Regions from separate parts of the Homo sapiens genome. Here all the other regions are linked to region 1. The links come from fine-mapping of genetic effects on gene expression. A gene starts in region 1. Each other region holds a variant in brackets. All regions are shown on one strand. Distances are between the middles of the regions. Region 1 holds the start of ADTRP (androgen dependent TFPI regulating protein). Region 2 holds the start of LOC124901258 (a long non-coding RNA gene). Region 3 overlaps ADTRP (androgen dependent TFPI regulating protein).

Evidence for each region. PIP is the estimated chance that this variant, and not a neighbour inherited with it, causes the effect.
Region 2: its variant is fine-mapped to the expression of ADTRP in whole blood (TOPMed, PIP above 0.99).
Region 3: its variant is fine-mapped to the expression of ADTRP in whole blood (TOPMed, PIP above 0.99).

What each region holds. Positions count from the first base shown.
Region 1 is chr6:11,772,942-11,784,367 of GRCh38, reverse strand. It overlaps ADTRP (androgen dependent TFPI regulating protein), which reads left to right and starts at 5,565. Exons shown (of 6, transcript NM_032744.4): 1 at 5,565-5,761. The coding sequence starts at 5,609.
Region 2 is chr6:11,725,448-11,734,691 of GRCh38, reverse strand. The region is part of intron 4 of ADTRP (androgen dependent TFPI regulating protein); the gene reads left to right. LOC124901258 (a long non-coding RNA gene) reads right to left here and starts at 7,527. Exons shown (of 2, transcript XR_007059452.1): 1 at 7,278-7,527; 2 at 3,445-4,634. RefSeq lists enhancers at 1,935-2,024, 2,305-2,604, 4,989-5,158 and a cis regulatory region at 5,073. The variant C/A (reference allele first, on the strand shown) is at 6,082.
Region 3 is chr6:11,709,080-11,720,675 of GRCh38, reverse strand. It overlaps ADTRP (androgen dependent TFPI regulating protein), which reads left to right. Exons shown (of 6, transcript NM_032744.4): 6 at 6,164-7,153. The coding sequence ends at 6,198. LOC340184 (a long non-coding RNA gene) reads right to left here. Exons shown (of 3, transcript XR_001743973.2): 3 at 10,277-10,593. LOC124900221 (small nucleolar RNA SNORA67) reads right to left here and starts at 10,857; the gene lies at 10,716-10,857. RefSeq lists enhancers at 6,151-6,300, 8,987-9,036. The variant GAGA/A (reference allele first, on the strand shown) is at 5,476.

The DNA.
Region 1 (11,426 bases):
TCAGAGTTTTCTTTTCTCCACATCTTTGCCAACACGTGTTTTCTTTTTTCTTTCTTTCTTTCTTTCTTTTTTTTTTTTTGGATAACATCCATTCTGACAGGTGTAAGGCGATATCTCATTGTGGTTTTAGTTTGCATTTCCCTGAGGTTTAGTGATGTTGAACATTTTTTATATATCTGTTGGCCATTTGTATGTCATCTTTTGATGTCTATTCGGGTCTTTTTCCCATTTTTTAAATTGGGTTATTTGTTTTCTTAGTCAGCAGATGTTTATTAGGTACTTACTGTGTGTCCAGCACTATGCTAAGCTCTGGGAATTCAAACACATCATATGTGAACCCTAGGAGATAATGACGTACAAAAAAGACTAATTCCTAATCATTATGCAACATGCAGGGATGCATAGCAGGTTAAAGAAGACAGGAGGGAGCTGTTTAAGATGGCCAGGTTGTGGTGGCCATCCAGGAAGGGTTCCTGGAAAAGGAAGCTGCTGAGCTGCATTTTAAATGAGGGTTATGACGTAACCAGTCAAAGATATGTTGAGAGGAGGCATCAGGGAGAGGAGACAGTAGGAGTAAAGGTGCCGGTATGTGACATAGCCAGGTGTGGGTGAAAAGCTCTGTCAATGCAGTGTTGTTGGAGTGACATCCAATGTGGGATGCCACACGAGGATGGAGAGAGCCAGTGGGAAGTGGGCAGGTTATTAAAAGCTATGAAACTTGGATGTAATGCTGTGGGTGATGCTGATGTAGTAAAACGACATGAGCTGGTGGGGGATGTGGCATTTCAGAGAGAATCACTCACTGACCTTGTGAAAAACAGCGTTGGGGCATCAAACTAGATTCAGGAAAACCAGCTAGGTTGCTGGTTGCTATGGTGGTGGCAAGAGATGGAGGCCACTTGAACGAGGGCAGTTGTAGAAGGGATGGAAAGAAAGGGACTGATTTGACCCTGATGTAAGAAATGAACTTGGCAGGATTTGGTGGTTAACTGGATTTGAAGAGTAAAAAAGCGGGAGGACACAGGAAGCTCCCAGGTCGATGGTGAGGCCATGGTCACAGGACAGAGACTAGAGAAGAAAAGCCTGGTTTGGCGGAAGTCAGTGAGCTCGTTTTAGACGTATGGAGTTTGAGGCGTGTCTGTCTCCTTCAGGAGATTCCAACAGGTAGTCAAAGATGTGTTTGAAGCTTGGTGGGGATAGGGAGAGGGCCTGGACCAGAGGTATATAATTTGTGGTCACAAACTGGAAGGCAGTGGTAGAAATTATGATCATGGATAAAATCACTAGGGTGAGTATGTGTTGGGAGACGGACGGTAAGCTGGACCAGCTCTCTGGGGAATGCCAACACAGAAGGAGCTGGTGGAGGAAGAGGAGCTCATTAAACAGACTGAGAAGGATAGTAAGAGCATGTTGGGAGAATAAGCCTTGCTCATACGTGGCTTCCTTAGGGCTAGCTTCCCTGACGCCCTACCCACACCAGGTCTGATACTGCCATCCCCTCTAATAAGTCTGCTGTGTTTGTCCTTCACAGAAGTTGCCATAGTTATAAATTAACACTTGTTTTTGTTGTTGCTTAATGTTCATCTTTCCTGCTAAAATATAAGCTCCATGAGGGCAGGGTTTGCATCGCTCTTCTTCCTCGGGGAATCCCCAGGACCTAGCAGATAGCTGTTGCTTAATAAGTATTTGTGAAATTAAAGAATCATGTTGCGGACTCCCAGGGGGGTAGAGAGTTTCAAAGAAAGTCACTCTTAGTAACCAAGTGGCCTGTGTAGTATCCAAATCAAAGTATGAAATATGCTTATTTTTAAATGTTTAAAATTTCCTGTGTAAAATAATAAAAGTTTTGAACAATTCCTTCCCACTTCTCCTGGATATGACGTGAAGCCCTCAGATACTTGGAGAAAGGAAAAGGCAGACAAACAGCACGCTTAGTATGTATTAGTTTATAACGTGCAACTAAGAGGTGACATTCATTGCTCTCCAAAGCTCCACCTGGTCTCATGGTGGGGAACAGATGTTCAGGCTACTTCATGAAAATGGATCTGGTTATTCAACCAGGAACACAAATTATGATGTGAATATGGTTGCAATGTAGATTTTTCATTGGCAACAATTTTGTGAAAAGTTTATAAGAAAATGCAGATGTTGAATTAAGAAATAGTTTTATTTCTTAAAATATTAAAATATTTCTTAAGAAATAAAACTATTTCTTAATTCATAATCCTTAACTCATAATGTAATCCTTATATACATATATTACATGTAATTATTAAATCCTTATATACATATACATGTTATTTATTAAAATATCATTTTATTAATTATTAATATGTATTAAAATGATATTACATGTTATTAAATCCTTATATATTAATGTCATTATTTATTAAAATGCTAACAATTCATTGGATCCCAATGTAAAACACTAAAACTCTTACAAATAAATTTAAATAATTTTATCAATATTTATGAGAGGCCCCATCTGTGGGCAATGAGGCTAACGTAGAGAAAAAAACCATCTAGGTGGTGAAAGGCCAGTGTCCAGGTTTGGACACACACATCTCAGAGATTTGGGTCTTTGTCTTCCCCTCCTTTCCTACCTTTGCGTCAATCCTTACCCATCTGCAGACTTAGACTTGAGATTTTTTTTTGTATAAAGGAATAAAACCTCTAAATCAACAATGGTGTCTAAAATGAAAACACCCTTGGAGACATTCATTCATTCATATGTGCACCAAGTTTCAAAACATATTGATCCTTTTCTGAGATAATTTTCTGATGAGAGGAGAGAAGAATAAAAGGGACTCGGCCGGGCTCGGTGGCTCACGCCTGTAATCCCAGCACTTTGGGAGGCCGAGATGGGCGGATCACGAAGTCAGGAGATCGAGACCATCCTGGCTAACACGGTGAAACCCCGTCTCTACTAAAAATACAAAAAAAATTAGCCGGGCGTGGTGGCAGGCGCCTGTAGTCCCAGCTACTCGGGAGGCTGAGGCAGGAGAATGGCGTGAACCCGGGAGGCGGAGCTTGCAGTGAGCCGAGATCGCGCCACTGCACTCCAGCCTGGGCGACAGAGCGAGACTCCATCTCAAAAAAAAAAAAAGGGGCACTCAGTAGGGAGAGGAGAAATATCAAAGTGGGAGTCTGAGAGTGTGCAGAGCAACATTGTTCCTTTGTAGGCAGGTACACTGGTTGTATTAGGGTTCTCTAGAGGGACAGAACTAATAGGATGTATGTATATAAGAAGGGGAATTTATTAAGAAGTGACACACAATCACAACAACAGGCCGTCTACAAGTTGAGGAGCAAGAAAGCCAGTGGTGGATCAGTCCGAGTCTCAAAACCTCAAAATTAGAGAAGCCAACAGTGCAGCCTTCAGTCTGTGGCCAAAGGCCCGAAAGTCCCTGGCAAACCATTGGTATACATCTAGGAGTCCAAAAGCTGAAGAACTTGCAGTCCGATGTTCGAGGGCAGGAAGCATCCTGAGAGCATGGGAGAAAGATGAAGTCCGGAAGACTCAGCAAGTCTAGTCCTTCCACGTTCCTCTGCCTGCTTTATCCTAGCCACGCTGGCAGCTGATTAGATGGTGCCTACCCAGACTGAGGGTGGGTTTGCTTCTCCCAATCCACTGACTCAAATGTTAATCTCCTTTGGCAACACCCTCACAGACACACCCAGCAGCAATACTTTGCATCCTTCGAACCAATCAAGTTGACACTCAATATTAACCATCACACTGAGTTCAGACGGCAGCTCTGCCTCTTACAAAGTGTTGAACACATCCTTTTAGCAGATCGGGCTTCAATTTCCTCATCTGAAAATGTACTTAATTCGTAATAGTACTTACCTCATAGTGTTATTTAGAGTGCTAATCAGCTAATATGTGTAAAGCAACTGGAACAATGTTTAGCAAACAGTAAGTACTATAAAAGTATTAGCTTCTGTTATTATTTGCAATTTAGCCCAGGCTGTGGAGTTTTGTACAGAGTTTTATGTACCCATTTCCCAGATCACCCCTTCCTTTGAGAATGGTTTGCTATGGTCTATGTTTGTGTTCCCTGCAAATTCCTATGTTGAAATCTTAACTCCCAGGGTGATGGCATTAGGAGAGGGGAGCTTTCCGAGGTGATTAGGTCATGAGGGCAGCATCTCCATGAATGGGATTAGTGACCTTATAAAACAGGCCTCAGGGAGCTTGTTTGCCCCTTCTACCACATGAGGACTCAGCCAGAAGGCACTATTTATGAACCAGGAAACCGACCCACATTAAACACCAGGCACTCTGTCAGCATCTTGATGTTGGACTTCCAGCCTCCAGAACTGAGAAATAAATTTCTGTTGTTTCCAAGCTTCCCAGTTTACAGTATGTTGTTATAGCAGCCCCAACAGATGAAAAAAAAAAAAAAAAAAAAAAACATGGTTACAATGCAGAACTCCATGGCGGGCTCAGGTTTGCTCTCCTCCCATCTCCCAATCCTGATATTGGGAGTCTGTTGACTCTTAGGAGGTGGGTTTGTTTATGGTTTGTCCTCCTTGTCCAGCCTACAGTTCTTTCTGCTAGTACTTTTAAGCCCTGGTTAAGTCATTGAAAAGCACCAATTACAGACTTACATAACTGTGTCAGGAGCATTTCTCTGAGGGATTTGCTCACCCCTCGGAGTCAGTTGCCCAGGGAAACAAGCTGGCGATGTCACAAGGCATCCACTTCTAGTTCTTCCTCAGTTCCCTTCTGTGGAACCTGAGTCAGAGCCTAGTCCGGCATGCTGCCTAGCCCAGCCACGTCTCATCCTATTCATGGCAGAGCGGGGACTCTCACCCTCTCCCAGCAATGTCTAAAGTCAGGTATTTTGGGGTCATGGCCATAGTAAGGATGGTCTCCTGTGCTGCTTCTTCCCTCCCAGGGCACAGAAATGCCTATGCAAATGGAGTGTCTAGGACAGCCCTGGGTTACTCTTGGTTCTCTAGGGTATAGTTACAAAAGTGAAAAAAAAAAGAAAAGAAACCATTGGAGCTGCTCCCTGGAGGATCAAAGGTTGTTGCAGACTTTCTAGAATCTCAGAGACCTCAGGAGCAAAATTACAACACACTTTTCCTTTCTACTGTTCATGCCCTAAGCACACCCATGATCTGGTTTATCAACCTGCTCCTCCTTTTCTCAAGAGATAAGGTTGCAACTTCCTTGTTATATGCAAATGAAAAGAAAAGAGACTACAGCCATGGAAGTATTTCGCTAGATTTTCCTAGTATTTCATGCTTACTTCATTTAACCATGCCCCTGCCCCAGTGCCCTAGTGAAACAGTACAATGTACAGCTCTTGCATTGCTACCTGCCCTTCTCAAAGCCCACATGTTGTATTTTATGCAAATCTACAGATTATCTATCATTATCTAAATGCAGGCATCTGAAAACCAGCAGTAATCCTGCCTCTGAAGTTTATCAGGAAAGGAGCTTAAAAGAGAACCAAATTCAGCCTGTGTTGGAACTCTCAGTCCCAGAGGGGTGTGGTTTGTAGCTCTCCGGCCTGCTGTTGGACTTAGGCTGTGACCCACAGAAGGACGCCAGAAAGTACTCAAGACATTCACGGTGCCCCGGTCAGCACTCGCCATGACGAAGACTTCTACATGCATATACCACTTCCTTGTTCTGAGCTGGTATACTTTCCTCAATTATTACATCTCACAGGAAGGAAAAGACGAGGTGAAACCCAAAATCTTGGCAAATGGTGCAAGGTGGAAATATATGACGCTGCTTAATCTGGTAAGTCCATATGTCCGTACCAGGAACCGATCCATTTCTCTAGAATATCAGTGCTGCCACACATATCATCTTTGGATTTTATTAAATACACAATTTTGTTATTTGTCTTCCTTCTTCACCGTTTTGTGAGTTTTGGGTTTTTTGTTTACTTAACAATTTGCTCTGATAAACCCAATTTGGAAATTATCTATAGTTAACATTTCTATGCTGGCTCATTGTTAAATGCTCTCTTGAAAAAAAAAATCTCATCTTGGAGCTCTTTTCAGATGAGCTCAAAGAGGGGACCATGCTAATGGTTTCACCATGGGATTAACTACAAATGCAGGAGGCATTTTGAACTTTGCTTGGGGAAGTCTGTGAAGAGAAGGCAGAGTGGCGTATGGTGTGTAGGAAGTGTAATTTCCAATGAAGGAATAATGCCATTTTACAGCACACACAGACTAACAGATTTATCTAAGAAAAGCAAACACATTTTGCCATGTTCAGCTCCCACCTCAATTTTTTATAGGTTCAGGCTCCATCTTAAAGGACAAATCACCCAACCGAATGGCAAATACACATTTTCAACTATTTAAAAACCAATCTTATGACTTACTCCTTTCTTGTCTTCCTAACCTGGCTGACTGCATTCTGATGAAGTGTGAATGAATGGGAGAAAAGCAGATTATGAAAAATACTTTGAGGAATAGCTTAAAAAAATACTTTTAAAGTTAAAAGCTAATAATGGGGAATCATTTGGGGATGTGAATTAATATTTGAGGTTTTTGACTAAAATCTTGGGTGCCACATAAACATCTGTTTTCAGAATTGTAATCCTCATTTGACAAGCGGAGAATGTATGTGGTCAGAAACTGTGACACTCTGAAATGCTAAGGACGTGGAAATGGAGAGAGTTAAAATCAAAGAGGCCCAAAGTGGCTGCTTCCTCCTCACTGGTTGGTTAGTGGCCTCTTGATTTGGGCCTGAAAAATTGGAACCCTGAACACAGCTCTAGTGTCTTTGAAAACTTCAAGGTGACTACTTGTTTCAATCATGGAATTTTATGAGAAAAACAAACAGAAACAAAACAAAAAATGTTTTTTGTATAACTAGCAGTGCCACAGTAAACAACAACAACAAAAAACCACACACACACACGCGCATACACACACACCCCTAAGGTTTGTGTCTCTATTGGCTTTCTATGAAAAACAGTCCACTAAAAGGGAAGTGTGTCTGTAGTTAGGACTGACTTTCTAATAAAATCCAATTCCAGTATGAATGTCCTACCTCACACTATGTGTGGCTAAGAATAGATTTATCACCACACTCATTAACTAGCTCCCTTACCTCTTTGTATACACACACACACACACACACAACTGATCCTGACTTTTTAATTCTAGCTCACCTACATTTCCAAGAGCCCTTATTTTCCAAGAGTGAGAAAAGTCTCTTATCTTGTCAATGATACTATCATTTCCTAGTGTTAATCCCAATTTTGCTTCCCTGATTGATCAGCTACCAAATCCTATTAGTTTTTCCTTTTACTAAGTTCATCCTTTCTTCTTCAACCTTACTACTGTCTCTCTCATTCCAGGCTTATATTAAGCCTACCTGGATGACCATATCATCTCTTTACTGTCCATTCATGGTCCAATCCAGCCACTTAGATTCCAAATTAATCTTCTCAAAGCACTGGTTTTGGTTTGTTTTTTAATACCATGACCTGGATCTAAAAGTGTGGCCTGCCGCTCAGGAAACCACAGTGGCTCCCTCCTGCCTCATGGACCCAATGTCAAACTCCCGATTCAAGAGCTCACCTGCCCAACCAGCCTTTCGGGTTCCCTCTCCCTGGGAGGCTGGTCTCTTCTGCAGTAAGGACTGCGTCTCACTAGTATTGGTCCTTGGGCTTCCTGCTGTCACTTCTCTGCCCGGTGTTCTCTCTATCCTTAGAAGAAAGGCCTACTTACCTCTCTCCACCACATTGCTTCTTTCATAGAACATTGGGAATCACATATACTCCTCCCAAATCCTTGCTGACCAACTCCAGTCCAAATTTCCTTTTCCTTTCTCTGATTTTCACAGCATCTCTCAGTCTCTGCTGATTTATATGTAGTATTGTTTTCTAATTCCCTCTCTCCCTGCCATGTGAGTCTTAACATTCCAATCAAACTTTGGCTCCAAAACAGAAGTTTTTTTTAATCTTAGGTCCTTGCCAACCCTAACTGTCTATATTTCTACCTTGAATTCAGCACAGTGGCTGGCACAGGATACCCAGATATTAAAAAGCTGCGACTTGGTACGTTGACGTGACCTCAGCCTTTCTGCATCCTCAAGCAGTCCCTCTCTTCTGGTATCTTCTGGCCCTCGTAAATAAGCTGAGAGGGGCTTGCCTGTGGTGATTTTCTTTCTGAGCTCCATTAGGAGTCATCTTGAAAGTGTGACCTAATGAAATGCTTCCCAACTGGTGAAGATGGGTTGAGTGTATTTCAGAGGATCGATTTAATGTAGATTTCGAATATGTTGCTTAAGGTGAAATATTGGACCTGCAAATGTCTAGCTCTTGAGATTCATGGGCTGATTAATGGTTGTGTCTCCTAATGATTAATTAGTGTTCATTCATGACTAATTAATTGGTGGTTGTGTTTATTAAGTCATAAAGGTCTCACAACTTACGCTCACATTCTTATATTTATTTTACCTCACCTTGGGGAAGTTAGTATCCAGTCCTGATTACCAGAAAATTTACACCCCTCCTCGTAAACAGCTTGAATTTCTAATTGGCTGAGTATCATTTTTGTCCCCTTTGTAAGAGCAAAGCCCCCTTTTGTGCCAGTTGGCACTGTGAGCATTGCCCCAGTTCCCCTTGAAGCTATCCCAGGGGACTGGAAGGGGAGACAGACAGGAGACAGGAGACAGACACGAGTTGCACTGAGCTACTCCCCTGGGGTTGGTGGTAGTGGCTAAGGTGCCATTGAGAATTGGTCAGGGTGACCCATTTCTGACTAAGGAGAGTGAAGGTAGGAGAGGACAGATGGGAGTCTCTGCCTAATAAGAGAGTAAACTGACCTCAGTGAAGGGGCCACTGATTCCCTGCTGGGAGGGAGAGGTGGTATTTCACAATGGTTACAATTGCGATCTCTGGGATGGTACCTCAGTCCCACTGCTTACTGCCCCCGAGACCCTGGGCTAGGCACTTCTTTGTGTCTTTCATTTCCACGTCTGTCAAATAGAAATAAAAATAGTACCTAACCATAGGGTAGCCATGGGGGAGAAATGATCTGACAGGTGGGAAGCGCTCAGAATGGCGTCAGCAGGGTGTTAGGCAGTGGACAGTGGGGAGAGAAGATGGGGAGGTGATGGTGAACTTCTCTGGGTAGAGAAGGTGATGCAGGAGGGTGACTTAGTAGAACATCAGTCTCCTCACTGAGCACCTAGGTTGTTGCGGGGTGGAGGCCAGCAGGAGTCATCCACCCCCTTCCCCTTCATGGCTACTATTTCTCCCTCCCCGAGCTGCATGCCCCATCTTCCCAGCTGGAGAAGGACCACTGTCGAGCCACTGCTCTCCCTGCTGTAGCTGCCCGCAGGCACCAGGCCGTCCTGGTGGTAGAGTCTGCAGGCTCCAGCAGACAGCCATGCAGAATGGGGAACCCCAGAGGCTAGGCGTGAGACCAAGGCAGTGCCATGGGTGTCCTCAAGCAGCTTAGGTTGGCTCAGATCATCCAGTGCCTGAGTCCTCCACAAATGCTATGTCCCTTGCTCTCTGTCCACCCCATTTCCATCCAGGGACTGTCCCTAATCCCAGAGAATATGAGCTAGGGGGTTTAGGGCAAGGCTCAGCAGCCACAGCTTGGCTCGCAGAATTCATTCAGTTTATTAGGGTTTCCTCTTTTTAAAGATAAGCTTCCTTCTGAAACATTGTTAGAGGTGGGGCCACATAACTGGGATCTCCAGGGGAGATTCTGAGTGGGCCCCTCCCTCCCCACGCCCCTGACACCCCCTTCAACAACAGAAGCATGACCTTTCCCTCCCTTTTCATAAGTTGCCCAAGCCCCAGGCAGCTCCGTCGTCATCACCCTCAACTTCTCATGATGACAACAGTGGCAATACCACATAAGTCCTTGGGGTTGCTGGCCTGGGGCTGGGGGAACAGAGGAGCTGGGAGGCCTCTATGGGTCTAAACTTCAAGGCAGCCTGTGAACAGTGAGAAGATGGGGTTGAATTTATAGTATGGCACCCACTTCAACACTTGGGGGACCAACCTTAAGTAATAATCTATGGCACTATTTATTTATTTATTTATTTATTTATTTTTGAGATGGAATCTCTCTCTGTTCCCCCAGGCTGGAGTGCAGTGGCACAATCTTGGCTCACTGCAACCTCTGCCTCCTGGGTTCAGGTAATTCTCCTGCCTCAGCCTCCTCAGTAGCTGGGACTACAGCATGCACCACCATGCCTGGCTAATTTTTTTTGTATTTTTAGTAGAGATGGGGTTGCACCATGTTGGCCAGGTTGGTCTCAAACTCCTGACCTTGTGATCCGCCTGCCTTGGCCTCCCAAAGTGCTGGGATTACAGGCGTGAGCCACCGCACCCAACCCCTATGGCACTCTTCAGCAACGTGGAGTCAGAAATACACTTAACTATTTCTGCCTCACAAAGATGCACTTCAATAGCTGAAAGGGTAAGGACTGAGAGAACTATGTGATAGTCACCACCAGCACCCAAAATAAAGCAGCTATAAATTATTGAGCAAGTAACTATGACAGCATTTTGGTAGGTTCTTTGGACGCAGTATAGAGATGAGTGATTGAAGACCTGGCTTCTGAAACCAGAACACTGGCTGTGCTCACTTGCTGTGTGATTTTGAGTGACTTGCCTAACTTCTCTGTGCTTCAGTTTTCTCATGTGCAGTGGATACTCTGATAAGGCACCCAGATCCTCATACCTCCCCAGCGCTGAGGTACTCAGTCCCCAGCTCTCAGGAGTGTTGGCTGCTGATGGTGCAAAGCTGAGATCCCCTCCCAGAATTGCCCTCAGCAGAAGGGAGCTGCCTCGACCAAGGTTTAGGTCCCTCCCTGGCGTTGCTGCCTGCCATAACTGGCATCCAATATGGGGTGCAAATGCTGCACTCCCGGACAGCTCTGAACGAGCAGCTCAGCTCAGAGCTCCTCAAGGGATCAGCTGATTCCATGCAACTGCCCAGCACTTAGCCTCCCCCACTTCAATCCTTCTCCCTTTTTGCCTCTCATAGATGTCTGAGAGCGTTCTTCAGTGAACATCCTGCAGGCACATCTCAGAATCTCAGATTGTTTCCCACGGAACCTGACCTGCATCGTGTAAAATACCAAACATACAGAAAAGGTTTCTCTCCCTCCTCTTCCTCCTCCCCCTTCTCCTCATCATCTTCTTCCACTTCTTCTTTTCCTAATTCCAGATAAAGACACTAACACAGAGCTTTCCCTGGCCTGTATTATGTTCTGATACCTCACCGACAATTTCTGTACCTAACTGACATTCCGTGAATGTTGGTTGAATGAGTGAATGACCAGAACATGGTTCTAACAGGCATGAGGCCATCCCATCATGAAGGTGTTTTATCCCACAGCCACCCTACTGCTGTACTGAAGCCCGTTGTCCTCAGCTATGCGACATTGGCCAAGCATTCTGGTACTTCTTTCCAAC
Region 2 (9,244 bases), 49 kb after region 1:
ATGGGCTCTAGCAGTGCCTGTTTTATGGACTCGACCAGCCTCTGTCTTAGAGCAAATAAACTTGGTGCCCAGACCTCATCTGCTGTTTTCTCCCTAGCCCTTCCTTCCCTTTTGTGGTGTCTACCCCTCCCACCTTTCTGTGCCCCTCTTTCCCTGAGTACCCAAATCTTTCTTCTCCCATCTTAAAGAAAGCACTTGCTCAATAAATCTACCCCCAGACTCCAGTGCTCTATATTGTTCTTCAGCCTCTGAAGCCTTTACATTTTAACAAAGGGAATTTCAGAGAACGAGGCTTAAGCTTGGGTCCTACTGATAGTTGATGTCTGGAGCACTCTGTTGAAAAGGATTCTGAGGCATTACCAAGAAAAAGTTGTGTGATTATTTGGCAATGACTTTCAATAGCATGACAATGGACAGTGGTAAGATATATGCTATGTGTTTGCCATATCTGGCTTAATACAAAGGAATATATCCCTAAAGACAGAGTATCTGGGACCTGGATTGGGGTAAGAGTATAGACACATAAAGATTTTGTTGTTGTTGTTCTTGCATGTGTTGAAGAGAAGCAAAGTGGAATCTAGCTGATTATACACATGAATTTGTATGCTGTATTTTTTTTGGTGGTCTTTAACTTACTCTTTTATTGCCAAGTGTAAATCTGGTAGTTCATATATATGTTATTACCTTTTACTTACTAATGTCTTCTACCTAAGGACTTGTAAGTTGATTTTCAGTTCACATATCTGACCCTTGTTTTTCTTTTCCTTTTTGGGGATGAAGAAGATGAAAAGCACCTAAGGCCACTGCTGTTATTGGGGAAAATTGTAGTGGCTATAAAAATGAGTAGTAGAGGCCAGGAGGTTGGTTTGTCAGTACCTGGGCGGGTGTCCCCATGATGCAGGTAATTAGGATGTTGGAGAAAGAAATGCCACAGGATGGGAGCCAGGTACAAGTGCATCGTTATCCATTCAGTGGTTCACCAGCGCCAGGCACTGTGCTAAAATATGGAGGATACAGTGAAGTTCAGGAAACCTGCTACCTTTAGAGGCTGTCCGGGAAAGAGGAGCATAACAGACAGTGGGAGACAGGGTGATAGGACTGTAATAGGCATAAGCCCAGGATGCTATGGGCACACAGAGAGATGTGCAGGACTGGCTTCTTAAAGGGAAGCACTGTCTAAGCTGAGGCCCAAGGAATGAATAAGAATAGGTCAAAAGAGACATGGAAAAGACCTTCAGGCAGAAAAAACAGCATCTGCAAAGGGCTGGAGGAGCTGAGGGTATGGCTGAATTGGAGGACAGGGTAAAGCCAGGTCGTAAATCCACATTAGTGCGTTTGGACTTTTAAACCAAGTGCTTTTCTGTAGAAAAGTGTTATAATCAGAGGAATGAAATGATGTGGTTTATGTAAGAAAGCTGATTAGAAAGATGATTCTGGCTGAAGTGTGGACATTAGACTGAAGAGGAACAAGACAGGTAGACCAGTTGGTGGCATTGCTGGTAACTCAGGGGAGTTGATGTTAGCCAACTGATGATAACATCAGTCAATCCACAAATAAAATCAGAGAGTGTGAACAATGGGAGGTGACTTAGAGATGACTTAGCATTGGAAAACTAAATCTCCAGTAGGGTAGATGACATGCCCATGGTCATATGGCAGAGGTGGGGTAGAGATGCAAAGCTGGTACTTGAGCCAACTAAAACTGAGGTCTCCTCTCTCCAAATCCAGTTGTCTTTCCACTGTGTTTACATGGCCAGGTATTTGTTCAATTCCCAGTGTGTGCAAAACCATTCAGCTAAATGCTGGATGGATGGGCATGCACAAAGCTTGACCTAGCTCTGCACTTTGAAATCTTTCACGTGTTGTTCCCAGCTCTATGTGCTTGGATTAGACATTAAAGTACTGGTAATGAAGGGAGTGGAGGGAAGGGATGGAGACCTGTCACCAGCAGGAACGTGACTGGGTGAGCCCCAGTGCCCAGTGGGGAGCTGAGGTGGTTTGGGATTTCGTCCTTCATGAAAAATGCTAAGTTGGTATTTGGTCCACTAAGCCCCATTTTTGCTAGAACAAATCAAATATAGACACTTAAAGGAGGGTGTTTGATGTGATCCTGTTGATGGAAGCATCTCTATTTCTGCTCACGCCCTGGTTAGAGGAGCTCAGACTCTTTGGTGCCTGCCAACCCCACCCTTACGCAGTTTCCAGGGCCCCTGGCTCCTCACAGCCACAGATGGCCATGAAGTTCTACAAACTGCAGACACCCATGGAGACGTTTTAGGGAAGTGGCTATGGGCCCACTGTCAGATGTGCCAGTTTGGACAGTCAAATGGGGAAATGGCATAACACGAATGAGGTAAAGAGCATGGGCTCGGGCCAGAGGGAGCGTGAGAAACGAACATGAGTCAGGAAAACGGCACTGAAGCTGAGCTGGAGAAGCATTTCACCGCCGAAACCATGTTCAAATGACCTAAAAATAGTTCCTGAGACCGTGGGGACCGCCTTACATGTGGTGGTTGCTTTTAGTTATTTTTCAGATTGCAAAATTGAAGAGCTCTCCCCTAAGTGGGAAAATAAAGCTTTGCAAAATAGTAATGACTGCAAAGCTTTCATTTCCTTTGGAAAGCATTAGTCACCTTTAAATATGGTAGCTCACTTATTTCTCCCTTCTCTCCTACCCCAAAACACCTCACCTAGTTCTCCCTGAGGCAGTGGTGAGGAGCAAAAAAATAGAAATGTTCCTTCTGCTGGTTTTTATTCTTTCTTTTATTGAATAAATATTTTCCCTAACACATGGTTGGTCCTGCCCAGAAAAGCAATGTTATATCAGGCCAAGCTTCAGCCTGCAGGGGGTTTATCCTTAATAAGTGGAGATGACCCATGCATACAAATTATAAGTGCAGAAGATGGAAAGTGGTAAAACCTCATAAAAAAAACACAAGGAGCCACAGAAAAGGAAGAGTTTGCATCCAGCTGAGCGGTGTGGGAAGGGCACTGTGGAAGGCATGCATTGGATCTGAGCCCTGAAGGACCGGCAGGATTGGAGCTAGAAAAAATGAGAGAAGGTAAACAAAAGGAGCACAGTCCCAAGGCCAGGAGAGTGCAGAAAGCGTGAGAGCAAGGGTCAGTAATTCTCTTTGCTGGACCTGTTTGTGAAAGAGACTAATGAGAAATATCCCTGGAACTACCCACTCATGAAGGCTTGCAGATGGCAGACTAGAGGATGTTGGACATAGTATAGAAAATGGGAGCATTTGTTGTTGCTGTTGTTTGTTTGTTTGTTTGGAGTGGAAGCAAGGGTGAGCAGTATTTGTAACTTGGCCAGCAAATTATGCTTTAAAATGTCATTCTTGACAATAGTGCTTCAAATAAGTTGGAGTGACAAGAGATGGGAAACAAAATAAAATATAAACCAATATAAAAATAAAAACTAGCCAGCACATTATGTACTTTGATCACAATGTCTTAGTTTTTATGTATGGTTATTTCACAGTTCCAGTGATATCCCCAAGCACCCTTCTGCCTTGGAGGTCTTGGTCCAGTTTTCCAAGGAGTTCCAATAATCTGCTGAGTGCTCACACATGCCCCTGTCGTGCACTGCACAACCCATGCTGCACACTGTTCTGAGCATTGTTCTTACACACAGATAGCAAAACTGTAATCCCCACTGGGTCCAACATCCCCACCTGGCACAGTGTTAAGGGTTAGCACACCATGCCCACTGCTGATGCCAACAGTGTCATTTACCCATCAGCCCCCTGTGTTGGTAGAATTAACAATGTTACTCGCCACAGCAACCACCCCAGCTGGCCTGGAGTGCATCATCACACTGCTCTTGGTAGACCAGAAACCTACTGATGCTGCAGGTGTCCCTGCTAGTGTGTAAAGTATTGCATGCCCCGTACAAACACTGCACAGATATGCAGCTGTCACCCAGCCTTGGGGCAGATGTTTGTAAAGTCCCTTCCCCAAAGTAGTTGCTATGAGGCAAGAGAGAGAATTACTTTCTTTTATACTGTGCTCTCCAGGGTAAGATCCCTCAGCAAAGCTTCCTGGGTTCCCAGAAGTAACAGTTCTTTAAATTCATGCCTCATTTACAAATACATGTACACATCTTACCCTGAGAATACATTAAAAACTGCCAAGGGGTGGACTAAGCTGAGTTCCAGGACCAGCCACCTTGCCATTTCCAGAATCAGCAATTCTCTTCTTCTCTTTCTGGTTTTTATTCATTTTTCTATTGAATAAATATTTTCCCTAACACATGGTTGGTCCTGCTCAGAACCAACCATGTTGTGAACTCCCTACCAGAGCCACTGTTACCGTTTCCAAAATATGACCTTCAACTGAGATCATCCAGGTCAACCATAGCTTTATAACCTCAACTCAGCAGGGATTGGAATCTCAGCACCATTTTCCACAGAAGAAATCCTTACCCTACCTGTAAATTCATATATGAAAATTAATTAAAAAGATGCCACACAACACATCCTTGTTGTCAACATGCGGGGTCCAGCCCAGCCAGGATCCAAACTGAAGAGGGATGGAGGTGGAGGACTAGGAGAGGAGAGGGTATCTCATCTCCTGCTCTTCTCATCTTTCCTGTTCAAACCTTAGTTCTTATTCAACCAAAATGCCTGTAACAGAAATCAGAAATAATAACGGCATGAAGAGAGTAAAACTGTAGAATCAGAAATGAGAGACATGCCTGAGACACATTGTTGAAACAACAGAATAGGTTTTATGGATTGATTGACATGTACCACACAAATGAAAAGGAAAAATTAGGATAATTCTAAAAATTTTAAGTTAGTAGACAAGAAAAATGGTGATTCCATTGATAGATGAAAATGAATTGTGAAAGTAATCGTCTTGGGTATAAGTAAAACAGTCAGTTTAATATCCCATATCTAGGTCTCATTTCAAAAATACTCTGGTTTAATTGGTTCAGGATATGCCCTCAGCATTGGAATTTTTAAGGCCCTCAAGTCAATTCTAATTTTGAGACAAGATTGAGAATCACCTGCCTGGAGGAATTTCCATTCAGAAATTCAGACCCTGCAGTCTCAAGAAAGATGGGGCTGAGGAGATGCAGCTAGTTGAACCCTCGTGGAGTGACAAGATTGCTGGAAAGAGAGAGAGGAGAGAGGGAAGATAAGTAAGAAGCAAACACCAGGGAAAGGCCCTCCTCTCAGGGACAGGAGGGGGAAGGAGCAGCAAAGGTAGCAAGGAATTACCAGGTAGTAGAAGGGCAGGAAGTTAGAAAACCATGGGCCCTGAAGGCAGAGAGGCTTCAAACTGGAAGGGGGTGTCTCAGGGAGGGGTTGGGCAACAGCTCTAAATGCCGTGATGAGGTTGCCACCCCAATGACTCTCATCACTGCCGACACCTCAACATCTAGGTAAACTATTTGACTAACACTCTAGCCTTGCAGTTTCTCCTGACTCTTTCTGTTTGATTTATTCTCCTGGGCTGGAAAGACGTGACCTGAGGGTTAACACCGAAAGAAAGAATTATATGCCCAAAGCCCACAAAACTCCGTTATCTGTTTATCTGCCACCCACAGACGTCGGTATTTCTCTACTGATAAGACGCAGAAGTTATGAATTTCTTGACAGCCATTATAATGCTCTAAGATTTAGGATAAGGAGACCCTAAAAGATTAATTTTTGGCTGCCATTTGGTGCCCACCCAGTCCAACTCACAGAGGTTCACGTAGCAGATGGCTCAAGAAAGATGTGAAATTGCTCTTTGAACTGAGGGGCAACGTCATTGGCCTCTTCAAAGTATTAGTAAAGTGAGATTAACCAAAACTTGAAAGGCCACTGGGTACATTTCCAAATTTCCAGAGCCTGTGGTGGTCTTGGTGAGTCAGGCGACTGAGAGCCGTCCATAGCAGTGTCCTACAGAGCCACCCAACACAGCCATTCATTTCAAAATTCAAAGAACCTGCTGCATTTTGGGCACTTGGCAAATAAATGTGCCTGACAGAGACAGTCCCTGCCCCTGCAGAGCTTTCAAGCTAGTGAGAAAAACAATCAAATAAGTAACAAAGGTAAGTTCCAGGGTGGAGGAAGCACCTGG[C/A]GTAAGCATTTACCCGAATCAGGGTTGGGGGAGAGAGCTTCAGGAAATCTTTTCTAGAGAAATAGACTTTTAAGCTGAGATTTGAAGCGTGAGTAAGATTCAGCCAGACACAGGGCAAAGAGAAGTAGGTTCCAGGAAACAAAAAGGTCAGAGGTGTACCCAGTGAAGACAACAGCAGGTGTGAAAGCCAAGAAACTGCAGCGCTCAGTTCACTCAAGAAACAAAGGGGTTCAATATGGATGGACTGCAGATCTCCAGATGGAAGCGGGGCATGGCCAGGCCAGGTAAGCAGCTGGGATCCTGGGATTCACTGCAGGCAGGGGAGGGCTGTGGACAGAGCTCGCTTTTAGGAAGATTACCGGATTACTGATGGCTTGCAATAGGGGAAGTGGGTTGAAAGGAGCAAGAAAGCCTAGTTGGTAGACAATGACAGAAACCCAAATGGAATGAAGGAGGCTGAAGGAAGATTGTGAAATGTGTGCGCTGAAGAAACATTTAGAAGGAAGTTTAGTATAGATATGATTTCATGGGATCAAACTTGGGGGCAAGATTGAATGGAGGGCTGACATTGGCTGAAATAGAAGACATGTTGAATGCAAAGTTCCCTCCCTCCCTCCCTCCCTCCCTCCCTACCTACCTCCCTCCCTCCCTGCCTCCCTTCCTTCCTTCTTTCCGTCCTTCCTTCCTTCCTTCCTTCTTCTTTCCCCTCTCTCTTCCCACCTTCCCCTCATATTCAGGCAAGCCATAAAGAAGTGATGTCAACTAACAGTGTGACTCTGTCCTCATTCACGCCTCTCTGCTGAGTACCCTTGGTAAATTACTATCATCTTGCCTCATACTCTGTATCTCTGTTAATTTTCCTACTGTCAGGTACCACACCTATAACTTTCCTTACACTTTATCTGTGAAAGTACACAATTCATTAGCTTACCTCGGGAACTTTCTTTTACAAGCCTTATGCTGAAGGAAACAAACATGAAGTAAACAGAAATTTTCCAAGCCTCTGGGGGGATGTCCTTATTTATAGACTATCTTACATAAATGTGCATGGGAATTCAGAAGCCCTAATTTCAACTATATAAAGTAAACAAAGTGAACTAAGTGATGCAACTTTTTGGAGTACATTCAGAGCTCCTCACTGACTCCAAACTCCTAGCCCTATCTACTTGAAACTGTTTATTTTCTATGCCATATACCTTCTTTGTCCTGCCATGAGAAGTAGCCATGCAGGTAAGAATCACTGTGGGCATCCTGTAATGCATCCATGGAACGCATATCTTAAAGAACTCTAGGCTGGCCATGGTGGCTCATGCTTGTAATCCCAGCACTTTGGGAGGCTGAGGTGGGCGGATCACAAGGTCAGGAGTTTGAGACCATCCTGACCAACATGGTGAAACCCTGTCTTTACAAAAAATACAAAAATTAGCTGGGCATGGTGGCGCACGCCTGTAAACCCAGCTACTCGGGAGGGTGAGGCAGGAGAATCGCTGAACCCAGGAAGCGGAGCTTGCAGTGAGCCGAGATTGCACCACTGCACTCCAGCCTGAGCAACAGAGTGAGACTCCATCTAAAAAAAGAAAAAGAATTCTAATATTAGTAACAATGATGATAATTATTGTTTGTTCTAGTCACCTCATTCTCAATCTGGGAGGAACATCCAGACAAGTTTGGGAAAGCAGAGTGATACCAGCAGGGCCCAGGCGAGGAACTAAATGCCAACCCTACATTTATATGACCCTAAAATTGACACCTCCTTAGATACATTTAAATTGTGGTAAAAGGTACACAATATTTACAACTTTAACGATTTTAAGTGATTTACCATTTTGATCATTTTTAAGCTCTGTAGCATTTTGTACATTTACCTTGTTGTGCATCCATCACCACCATCCATCTCCAGAACTTTTACATCTTCCCAAACTGAAAGTCTACCCGTTAAACAATAACTCCCTGGCTCAGTCCATTTTGTGTTGCTATAAAAGGATATCAGAGATTGAAAAGAGGTTTATTTAGTTCATATTCTGCAGGCTGAGAAGTTCAAGGGCATGGCCCTGGCTGCCGACAAGGGCCTTACTGCTGCCTCACAATGTGGTGGAGAAGATCAAAGGGGAAATGGACACGTGTGAAAAGGGCAAAACCTGAGGGGCACCCTAGATTTATAACAACCCATTCTCATAGAAAAAATCCATTTCTAGAGCTTACTATCACAAGAACAGCATCAAACCATTCTTAGGAGATCCAACCCCATGACCCGAACACCTCCCACTAGGCTCCCCCTCCCAACACCAACACACGCAGGACCAAATTTCAACATGAGTTTTGGTACGAACAAACAAACCATATTGAAACCATAGATAGCATTCCCCGCTGCCTCCTCCCGCAACCACATGGCAAGCACCATTCTACTTTCTCCCTCTATGAATCTGACATTCTAGGTTTCTCATATAAATGGAATTATACAGTATTTGTCCTTTTACGACTGGTTTATTTCACTTACCATGTCTTCAAAGTTGATCTGTGTGGTAGCATGTGTCAGAATGTTCTTCCTTCTTAATGCCTATGTATAAGCCACATTTTATTTATCCATTCATCTATCAGTGGGCACTTGGGGAGATTCCACCTTCAGGCTATTGTGAATAATGCTGCTATAAACATGGGTGTACAAATATCTCTTCAGATCCCTGTTTTCAATTCCTTTTTTTTTTTTTTTTGAGATAGAGTCTCATTCTCTCGCCCAGGCTGGAGTGCAGTGGCGCGATCTCCAATCACTGCAAGCTCTGCCTCCCAGGTTCATGCCATTCTCCTGCCCTCAGCCTCCCAAGTAGCTGGGACTACAGGCACCTGCCACCACGCCTGGCTAATTTTTTGTATATTTAGTAGAGATGGGGTTTCACCATGTTAGCCATGTTTTCAGTTCTTTTGGGTGTGTACCCAGAAGTGGAATTGCTGGATCAGATGGTAATTCTATTTTAATTTTGGGGAGAACCACCATATAGTTTTCCAAGGCAGATGTACCATCTTCCATTCCTACCAACAATGAACAAGGGTTCCAATTTCTCTATGTCCTTACTAACACTTGTTATCTTGTCTTTTTAAAAAAAATATAGTATCCATCCTAATGAGTGTAAGACAATATCTCACTGTCATTTTGATTTGCATTTCT
Region 3 (11,596 bases), 64 kb after region 1:
CACAGTGAAACCCCGTCTCTACTAAAAATACAAAAAATTAGCCGGGTGTGGTGGCGGGCGCCTGTAGTCCCAGCTACGCGGGAGGCTGAGGCAGGAGAATGGCATGAAACCAGGAGGCGGAGCTTGCAGTGAGCCGAGATCGCGCCACTGCACTCCAGCCTGGGTGACTGAGCAAGACTCCATCTCAAAAAAAAAGAAAAGGGTATATCCCTCACCTGGCCGCAAACCAACCATGTATTCTGTGGCAATGCACTTCAATTCCTCAGTGATCAGACAGCCTCTAAGTAGAGTGACCACCAAGCCCAGGTGGCCTGAGATGATCCCTGTCTATTCCTGCTGTGCCAGTATTCATAAGGTTTAATATTGTCTAGGCTTGGGCACTCAGTTGACTGGTTCCCCTACTAGTGAGCCTTTCTCCAGATCTTCAGTTCTGGAAACTTATAGATAGCCACGTATTCTGTCCAAAGCCAGAGCTAAGCCTATGTTTTCCCTCCTTCCACAGCCTGAGCCCCCTTTGATGACAGGAGAAATTCAAATGAATGCTTTAGGGAGGCAGTCGGGGGCTGTGGTTAGAAGAAAAGTTCTGGTGCCAAACTGCCTCAGTCTCTATCTTGGCCCTGCCACTTGTACCTGTGACACTGAGTGAGACACTGAAGGTCTCTGTGCCCCAGCTTTCTCTTGTCCTAGTGGAGATAATGCTAGTGGCCTCCTCCTGGGCTCACGGAGAACCTCAGATGACTTGCTGAGGATCTAGCGCCTACAGCAGGACCTGGCATACAGTTAGTCACTGCTGCTGGTCATCTTATTCTCCCTCATTCTCCCCTTTGAGTTGATGTATAAATTACCAGTTTCCCAGCTGCAAGTGATTAAAGGTAACAGCTACCCGATAGCAGACGGACAGAGATGATGCACGTCCTCAGGTACTTACAGCAAATAGGAGGTCAGGCTATTGGAGGCTAGAATCTGTTGGAATCTCTGCTTCTGAAATCCTGAGACACAACTGGAATCTCTGCTTCCAGTGGCCCAATTTGAAGTCACCAGCCAAGCACCAAGCGGTCAAGAACATCAGGCGAAGTATCAGTCAAGACCCATTCAATGTGACAGTAGCTCTCTAGCAGTAGTTCTCCACCTTGGCTTTTTACATCACAGAAACACTAGGGAAGTTTAAAAAATAATAATTCCCAGGCCTGCCTTAGACCAATTAGATCCATATCTCTAGAGATGGTGACTCGACATGGGTATTTTTTAAAGCTTCCCAGTTATTTTAACTTGCAATCGGGATCCGGAACCGCTGTTACAGAGCAACGCTTCTCAAACCTGTATAGGCCTCTGATGCTCATCAAAATGAGGATCTTGGGGAACCCGGAGATCTTGTTAAAGTGTGGATTCTGATTTAGTGGATCTGGGGTGCAGTTTGAGATTCTGCCCTTCTAACGCATACTCCAGACATACTGATGCTGCTGGTCTGAGGACAAGGCTCTATTACATCTCAGGACCCTGGACTCCTCCCAATGTGGATAATTCTGTCTACGGCATCCTTGTGCAGTGTGGTGCTCTCCTGAGTGGGCTGCTGGACTGAGAAGGGTGTTGGTGGTGATGGTCACAATAGCTGAACATCTACTCACTTTCTCCCTCCTCCTGTGCCACATCAGTGGGTGAATATGGACAAGAGAGCAAGAAGGACAGCAATAAGAAACCATACTGGGAATCACATGTTAAATTGGAAAGTGTATGATGAGGTCCTCCCAGGGCACTCAGTTGCAGGGAACTGGCTTTGAGCGTCAAGGAGGCAAGTGTTGTCATGGCCCACAGGAAGGTCCTTCAAGAATGCACTGAGGCTCAAAAAGCTCACAAGAGGTTCCTCAGGGCCACCTGGCCTGACCTGTCACCATCTCACTCCCTGCCCTGGGCTAGCCTTTCTGTGTCATGAGGCAGAGGGTTGGGCAAGCACAGAGTCAGTTACTGGGACCAGTCATCCCCCAAGAAAGATTCAATTTCTACTTTTTGGGAGGAGTTAGATGGAATGTTAACTTCAAACCATGATAGAAGCAGATGGGGGAAGCTGTCTCTGGCAAGACATTGAGAGCTTGGCTCACCATGACCATGACTGAACACCCAGGCATGCCCAGGGCAGGTTCTCTTCCACATTGACTGGGGGCAAGAGGCAATCAGGACATCCTATCAAAGGCTCCCTTCTCTGCCCCTTATGTGCTTAATTTTCTTTTTTTTCTTTGATGATTGATAGCACACAAGGATGCTGACACCAGCACACAAGCTCCTCAGGAAGAGAAAATCATCCCACAAGAGATATGGGGCACAGAAAGGGGCTAAACACCTCCAGGCCCAAATGGCAGGGCCTCTGCTATGTGGGGGTGGTTGGAGAGACAGTCAGCTTATCCAGGGCCTGTGACCCCTCTCCCTATGCCCCTTGATGGACACATGCCAGGAGTCAGGCTGTCCTTTGTCAGGGCCCCTAAGACCATAGGTCCTTCTCATCCTAAGGACAGACTGTAAGCTGAAAATTCCAGCCTGGCCAAGTGGCGCTGGGAGTGTGTCCTGGACAGAATGACATGGAAACTTTCTTTTAATATTATTTGCCATAAACCAGGTTTTTTAAAAGGCAGATTTTCTTGATGAAAGCTGCCTAGAGGCCATCTAATCCACCTCCTTGTTTTATTCATGAAGGAATTAGATGAGGTTTGTCTTATTAACTCTGCTTATTCCATAGCAAAAGAATTTTATCATGCGATGACTCCACAGGTACTTCTAAAGCATGGTCCCACTGGGGCAGCATTTAGTCAATGGCAAAAATTTATCTCCATTTTGCCTTTCTTGTCCTAACTTCATCTCCCTAAACTCAAAAAGAGCCCGCTGTGGATTACCCTCCCTGCCTCTTCCTCAGCCTCTTTCCCACAGGAGTTTCTCCAGCCAGCCCTCAGTTCCCTGTCCTCCCTGGACTTCTGCAGTGTGAACACAGGACTATCAGTGCTCAGATCTCATTTCTCTAACACCTGCTATCCCCCCAACCATCAATTTTCTTGCCCTTTTCTGAGTCAGCCCACTGAAACTAGGCAAATGTTCTTCAAATTTTCAATGCCTGGCATTCATTTTTGTGGTTGTAGATACATAGGTGTAAATCTTTGAGAATACTATGTTTTTATTTATCCTGATTTCTAACTATTGGAATAATAAGGCATATAATTATATATGGTATCTATGGTGATGTTGATTGAAACAATAATTTCTTGGCCATGCCTGCAGTTTCTGTTCAGATCTTGCAAAGATGGAGGCTAGAATCTGTTGGAATCTGCTTCCAGTGGCCCGATTGGAAGTCACCAGCCAAGCACCAACTGGTCAAGAATATCAGGTGAAATATCAGGGCTATAAAAATATTTCTAGCCCTTGCTACTATCTGACAGCAGTTAAAGGAATAAAACAAGTCGGGGTGAATCTAACTTCCTATCTGCCAACTAGGATACTTTCTACTGGGAAAAATGCTTCTCAATCAAGAAAATATTTATAATAAACATAATTTTCCAATTACAACTTAAAATCCATTTTGTGAATTTGGTTTGGGTAAGATATATGATCTATTATTAAGTCAACAGTTTCCTTATTTCCAGCTATGCGTTATAGAAACATGGTCAGAAGGCTGGGTGCGGTGGCTCACACCTGTAATCCCAGCACTTTGGGAGGCCGAGGCGGGTGGATCACTTGAGCTCAGGAGTTCAAGAGAAGCCTGGCCTACATGGTGAAACCCCATCTCTACTAAAAATACAAAAAAAAAAAAAAAAAGCTACGTGTGGTGGCGCACACCTGTAGTCCCAGCTACTCGGGAGGCTGAGAGGTGGGAGAAACACTTGAATCTGGGAGGCAGAGGTTGCAGTGAGCCAAGATCACACCACTGCCTTCCAGCCTGGGTGACAGAGGAAGACCCTGTCTCAAAAAAAAAAAAAGAAAAAGAAAAAGAAAAAAAGCATGGTCAGAGATAAATTTTGAAGACTTAAAGAAGCCTACAAACTGCTTAGCTCTGTGAGAATTCAAGACTAAGACCCGCTTGCCATTCCCAGCTGCTAGAAGCAAAAAGAAACATGATTTTTGCAACGTTCACGCCACATGAGTCCCTACAGAATAAAATGACTTTGGGAGCACCACAGAGACCCATTTGGGAACAGTGCCTTCTCTAGCATGTGGATGGGTATGTGGGCATTTCTGAGTGTTCCTCCTAGCTACTTGGTTTTGGACAGAGGACTCTAATCCAATGGAGGGAACCACCTGCTGTCCTCCCCCAGCAGAGCTTCATACCACCATGTCTGCTCCTGGGTGGCTTTTCTCCAAACCTTCGTGTTCTGTTGCATTTCTTAAATGGAGAAGGGAGTCTTCAGTCCTCAACACCTGGGGTGGAAGGACTGAGGTTATTATTACAGTTAGGCTTGAGGGCTTGGGGATTGGTAAACAACATGGATAAAAGAAAGTTTTAGGAATCCTCAGAGTGACTGCGGGGTAGAAATTTGAGAAGTTTATATTGACCAAGTTTATATTGTCCCTCTTGTATGTGAGCTGGTTATTTAATTGAAAAAGAATTCATTAAAGGCCCAGAGTATACTCTACAGAAAAAGGAGGTACTGTGCTTGTACTTATAGACCTAATGTAGAGAAGCCCTAACTAGGGAGGAGAGAATTCACATCAAAAATGGAAAATAAGGCCAAGGGTGGTGGCTCTTGCCTGTAATCCTAGCACTTTGGGAGGCTGAGATGGGAGGATCCCTTGTGGTGAGGCCAGGAGTTCAAGATCATCCTGAGCAACATAGTGAGACCCTGTATCTAATAAAAAAGCAAAAAAAAAAAAAAAAAAAAAAAAAAAAAAAAAGCTGGGCATGGTGGTGTGCACCTCTAGTGCCAACTAGTCAGGAGACTGAGGTTGGAGGACTTCAGCCCAGGAGCTCAAGGCCGCAGTGAGCTGAGATTGTGCCACCGTATTCCAGCCTGGGCAAAGACCTTGTCTCAAAAAAAAAAAAAAAAAAAAAAGGGAAAAACAGAAGAGAAAGAAGTAGACACACCAATGAAAACAACGTGAAATCCATAAAGCTTGATAAACAATAAGCCTCGGCTGAAGTGACTGGGGTAGTCTAGATTGATGAGGAGCAGACGAAGAAGACAGAGTTTTGATCTTGAAAATTTTGCATGAGATGAATACAAGGATAGCCATGAGGACTGCATGATCAAGAGGTGGCCATCCTAGGAAATCAGTGTAATTAAGGGGCCACAAACAGGACTTCAAGTCACCAGTCATGATAGCCTCTAAGAAGTGGAGTTCCAGCAGAATGGAATGAGTATAAGATATCTAGTGTTTACTGTTAAGGATAGAATTGATGAAGGTGGCAGGGTTTGAAGGGTGAATCATGGAATTAGGAGCATGGATTTGCTGCAGGAATACCAAGCCAGAACTACCAGGGCTGTAAGTTCTGGAATGGAG[GAGA/A]AGTTTTTAAAGTAGCATTGACAGTATTTGGCAACAAGCACAAAGGATAATGAGCTAATGAAATTTCACAAATTGCAGAGCTTACACAAAGATTTATGATCATTAAATATGGAGTACCAACTTGTTGGCTGAATAGAAGTCATTCTACAAATCTAATGCTATAATTTCAGTAGAATAATGCCCCTCTAATGAGCTTACTCAAACCTAATCCATATGCCAGTACTTTTCCACCAGGCTGATGAATTCATTTGCTAAGAGGTCACAGAATGACCCCAATTAGTTGAACATCCACCCTTCTATTTCCTCTCTAATTTGATGTGGTCTCTTCATCTCCATCTGCAAAGTCTCAAAGTTTGCTGATGGATTGTGTGTAGCCTGCAGACACTCACTCAGAGTCACAGCAATATGCTTCCTCTTAGCTATGCAGAGTACCTGAAGGCAAACAGCATCGTGGGTGCCTGGCTAACTGTGAACCCAGCACTGAGGGAGGACGGCAGAGTTGTTCTCTGCCCCTGTCATCGTGGCAGCTGTTTTTTCATAACTCCTTAAACTGCATCTTGTCACCTTGGGAAAAGTGTGTTCAACTTTCCACTGCCCCAAGTCAGAGTGAATCTCTACCCACAACAAAAATACCCATTAGGGAAAGCCTGAAGCCTGAGGTCTGTCTCTGTTCTTGTTTGTACAGGTGACATGAGGCAGCCACGGAAGAAGAGGAAGTAATTGCACACCATTTTCCAAGAACCAAGAAAGAAGAAAACACAAGAGATTTTTCTCATCTTTTTTTTTTTTTTCTGGTGGAGGGAGGTGGTGGAGGAACATAGCAAAGTAGGAGGGACAGAGAGTGATACTTAAATTTAATAAGAGGTTCGTGAAGGTAGCTTAACTTGAGAACTCTTGGTTTTTTGAAAGGTTGACTGCACATGCCAAAAACAACTCCTGCTATCTCAGAATTAATTATCTTTGACCTTCGTGGAGGATGGTCTCTGGTTAAAATCTGGCCAAAGAAACTCACATAAACTTGGTGTTAGAGAACATCTAGAGAGAGAGAGAGGAACTTAGAGTCATTTAAACTCTTCAGTTTACAGAGAAGGATGCTGAGGACCTAGATGAGAAGTTACCTGCAAAAGGCAAAAGGGTTACTTAGTGTCAGAACCAAGGCAATGACTTCTCTCTCCCAGATCTCCTAGCTACTGGTCCTGGGCCATTTTTTTTTTTTTAAATAATCCCAACTTTCTTTAAAAGACAAGCATTTCAGTAAGCTAGTTATTTTCATGGGTTGCTCATCCATTTTTTTCAGTGATCTAAAAATGTAGGGAGATGGCTACTACTGAAGTTGTCTGTCTACTTGGGATAATAGCAAATTAATTGAAGACAATGGGAAAGTAAGTTATAAAAAATACTGGGAAATCTGTTTCTCTTCTGAGCAAGCATTCAGGGCAGGTATAAACATCAAACATAGTGACATTGTCAAAACCTCTTCCATTTGAACATTGATTAATTCATCAAATAAATGGTATAGTAATAAATTTTGCTTGCAGAAGAATCTGGATGGGAAGTGATAGAATTATAAGGGCTGTTGAGATTGCTTTGCTACAAAGCACTTTTCTGAATTAGTGTGTGGTTTAACAAAGCTGATTTCCAGATGCTTAACAAGGATTCATGATCCCTGCTGTGATTTTCCTAGTGTTATTTTCCTGGCCTTTATTTGTGGGCACATTTTTTAAAGAACACAAATGGCAAATGGCTATTGGTGGGTAGACATATTTGAGTCTACTAGTATGTCACTAGGCTCATATGGGTTGGGGTGTGGACACTGAAGGAAATTGGACTTGGACTTCCCAACCTAACATTATGTAGGAGAAATCTGGTAAAAATGAGCAAGAGTGGTCTTGAAGGGTTACAGAAGAGGACAGAATATCTCAGGTGGGAAGGCAGCCTAAGGGAAGACCAGGGCAGGCACCAAGAAACCTGCTTAATTCCCACTTCTTTTTCTACTGTTCTGTTAATATGGGCCTCAAGTCTTTTCCAGTTGGAGCTGGGAATACCACCTCTTTCCCCACATCTACTGCTGCCTCTTCACTGCTCCAAGCACCTGGTCTCAGCAGGAGCTCAGAAACAGTTGCCACAGTGGAAATTCCCCAAACGTGAAGCCCTCGGGGGATCACCCAAATGTTCCACACCCCAGAGGTGACTCGGGCTGCGTAACTCTCAGTCACAGTAAGCTCTTGGTGGGGATGAGCCTGCAAATTTCTATTTGTGGCTTTACTGGCCCTAGGACCAAATTAAACCTTGATTGCAGCATGCCTGGCCATTGTGCAATATCTCTTCCAACACTAGAAATGTCTCGGAACAATTTCCCATTGAGCACATGCCTAAGCACACAAGGGCATGCTCGGTGCTGCAGTAGCTTAAGAAAAGATACACAACAAAACAATAACACACTGATTAAACATTTGCTAAAAGGTATATGGTATTTGCAGATTGCATAGCACTATGTTAGGCCCTTAATAGAAAATGACAACTATAGCAACCACATGATGATACCAGCAATATTTGTGTAGTGTCAAGTAATTCATCACCACTCCCACTTATTCTAGCCCACGGAAACTTCGTAAGTAGGAGATGAGTTACGTTCTCATTTTACAAATGAGCAAACTGAGTTTCTGAGGGTGGTGTGCTGGGAAAGGTTTAACAACCAGCTCTCTGGGGAAAAGATGTCAGGCTCTGATTGATAATGTGTGCTCATTTCCATGGTGTAAACACTCTCCCCATGGCCTTTTTCAAGCTGGCAGCACGTTGCTGAATGTACAGTTGGGAAGAGATGTGGACAACCACTTAGTCCTCGAGAGCCTGTTGTGCAAACTGGCTCCAGCACACCTCTGCGTTCAGAGCAGGGAAATGACAAGTCCAAGGTCACATGGATAGTTGACTCCTGAGCCCACTTTCCTTCCTCTTTCTTACAGAGCAAAGCAGTACCGGGTCATCCAAAAACTTTATTTAAAAAACAAAACAGAAATGTGTCCACATCTTGCAGAGCTGGACAAAAGAAGGTGGTCAAGAGATCCCAAATTGGTGGAAACTGTCCCCGTTACAGGAGGAGGAAGGACGCTGCCACCACTACCCCAGGGACTGGCCTATACTCATGCTTCTGTTCCAGTGTTGCTGTCTCACATTTGAAACCAATTTTGAATTTGGGTAGAAGATTCGTCTTGTTGCCTAAACAATGCCTTAACCCCATTCTCTCCCCAGAAGGGTCCTACATTTCTTAAGCTATTTTCAGCTCCTCCACACCTACTCACTTGCAATACTTGTCATAACAGGAAGCCAGTTTCATATACTGTAATCCCCAAACACATTGCACCCACACGTGGGGAGCGTGAGGGGCTGAGCGAGGAGCGAGGAGGCCAGGCCTTCCAAAAACTGGAGGGGCTGAGCACTGAGCCGCTCCCAAGGTGGGGCGTCTCCACTCCCAAGCCCAGGATTCAGAAGCCAGAATCCACATCCAGACATTCTTGTTTTCCTTTCTCATGCAGTTGCTGGTGACTTTTTTTTTTTTAATAAAGCATTTGAGTAGGCAGCAAAGCCAGTCAGAACTGTTTATTTATAGCTGTGGATATTCAATGCTGTATAAATTAGAAATCGTTGCTGAATGAGGCCCGCGCCCACTCATACACGCAGGGCCGCTATCTGTGAGTCCTTTCACAGGGTTTGACTGTACACGGTCTAAAATGGGAGAAAATGACATGCTCCGAGTCAAATGACGGAGTCACAGCTAAACGGCAAAGCAGAAAACCAGCAATTATTTTTCCCCAGCACAATATGGGGAGTACGACAGGTGCAATTATCCAATATTATTTAACAGTACCGGTTTGTGATGTAGGGAGAAAATAAAGGTTTCCGTGTCTTGGAGAGGAAAAAAAGAGAAAGAACATGCCTTGCAGCTCCTGTTTCTATGGATTAAGCTGGGTTATGTACATGGAAACTGGCCAGGATTCCAGAAGGGGAAGGGAGAACCGCCTGGCTCCCTGGCCCTTCCTCCCAGGAGGCTCTTGAGGAGCAGCACCACAGGGGGCTTCTGAGCAAAGGTGCCCCCAGCCTTGGGATACTGTGGCCTGAACACCCTCTTCCCCAGGCAATGGCTCCAGGTAAGACTGCGGGGAAGACTGGGTTTGCTGAGCCCCTGTCCGCTTAGAAACAAACTTCCCTCCTGCTTTTGACTCTCTTTCCCTCCATTGAACTACAATGAGGTCAAAGAGCGTGTGATGAGAAGGTGATCCACAAGGAATAACTTTCAGCCCCTTAACCAGGTCCCCTTTCCCACTTCCAGCACGTTATTATTCCTCCTCCCAAGCCTTTGCTTAAACTGGTCACACTCCCTAGAAAGACCCCTCTTCTTGTAGCTACTGTGGAATAAATAAGTCAACCTTCATGGCTTCCGACCTCACTGGAGTGCCACTTCCCAACTCTCTGAAAAAGCTTTTCCTTGCCCCTCCGGGGCATTTGGCCGGCTGCCTTCTCTCAGTTCTGCTAGTTAACAGCTAATCAGCTTCACACACTATGCCATTGCTCTCTCCTTCACGTATCCTCCTGGCTTCTGTTTCTGGAATGGTATGGAATGCCATGCCGACTAAAGAAAACAGTCAAGCTTTTAAAGAATTAAAGTTAGTTGTATTCAGAAGTCTTACTGAGGACTACAGACCAAGGCCTACAGCCTGGCAACAGCCTGTCAGATCCTATGAGACTGCTCCAGCCCAGGATTTCAGCCCACTGCTTACAGACAGGAAGTGGAGGTTCAGTACCTGCACAATCACATCAAATTTGCTCAGAATTTCCGTCGCAGCAGAATCCCATCAAGGCTTGGGTGTAAGAGCGCATCCGGTTGTAGATTACAGAGGCATAAACACTAACCCTGTTAAAGGTTTTGTCTTCAAAGCATCTTTCCAAACATCTTCACAGTCCAGGGCTTTTGTGAAATTCTGCTGGCAAGCAGAAGTGAGCAAAAGGTGCTTCTCATATTTGCTCCTTTGTCTCACAGCTGGAAAGAAGAGAGGCTTCAGAACCAGACCAGATCTGAGTTCAAATTCTGACTCCCATGGCTGGCTATCTGTATGGAACCTAGAGAAAATCAGTTACTTTTTAGAAAAATGTATTATTCACTTTTTATTTGTTTAAAAATATATAACAACTTCAGCATGTGAATAAGAGGACACAGTCTATCCAGAAGGAGCTTAAGTATGCTATGTAGGCCGCCAGAGGAACGCAAAAGAAGTAAGCATCCCCTGTTCCTTAAAGACCTTAGGCATGCCAGATTTTATTCCAACTTGCTACTGTCCTAAGAGAGGCACTAGTCAGCCCCTTGGAGAGAGACTCACCTTGGATAAAAATAGTTTACTCCTCTGAGCCTTGGTTCCTTGTCTGCAAAGTTAGATAATGATACCACCACAATTAAATAATAAGATTATTTAAAGTGGTGGATGCAAGTGCCTGGCTCCCAAGATCTCCGTCTGATATAGTTTGGGTGTTGTTTCCTCGAAATCTCGTGTTGAATCATGATACCCAGTGTTGGAGGTGGGGCCTGGTGGGAGGTGTTTGGATCATGGGAGTGGATTTCTCATGAATGATTTAATGCCATCTTCTTGGGGCTGGCCTCGCCATAGTGAGTTCTGGCGAGATCTGGTTGTCTAAAAGTGTGTGGCCCCTCCTCCTCCCATCTCTCTTGCTCCTGTTCTCACTATATAACGTGCCTGCTCCCCCTTCACCTTCTGCCGTGATTGTAAGCTTCCTGAGGCCTCCCCAGAAGCCCAGGAGATGCCAGCACCATTCTTCCTGTAAAGCCTGCAGAACTGTGAGCCAATCAAACCTCTTTTCTTTATAAATTACCCAGCTTCAGGTATTTCTTTATAGCAATGCAAGAATGGCCTAATTCACCATCCCACCTGCTTGATTGCAAACTCCCGGGATGAGGGGCCGTGTCTACCTCTTTATATCTCCAACAAAGCCTAACTCTGCACCATTAGAAAGTACTCAAAAATACAGGCGGACTTGAGGATTCCTTATAGCTTCTTAACCTTACAGGCATCATCACCAGTTATCTTCCACCCTAGGCTTCCCTGGAAGC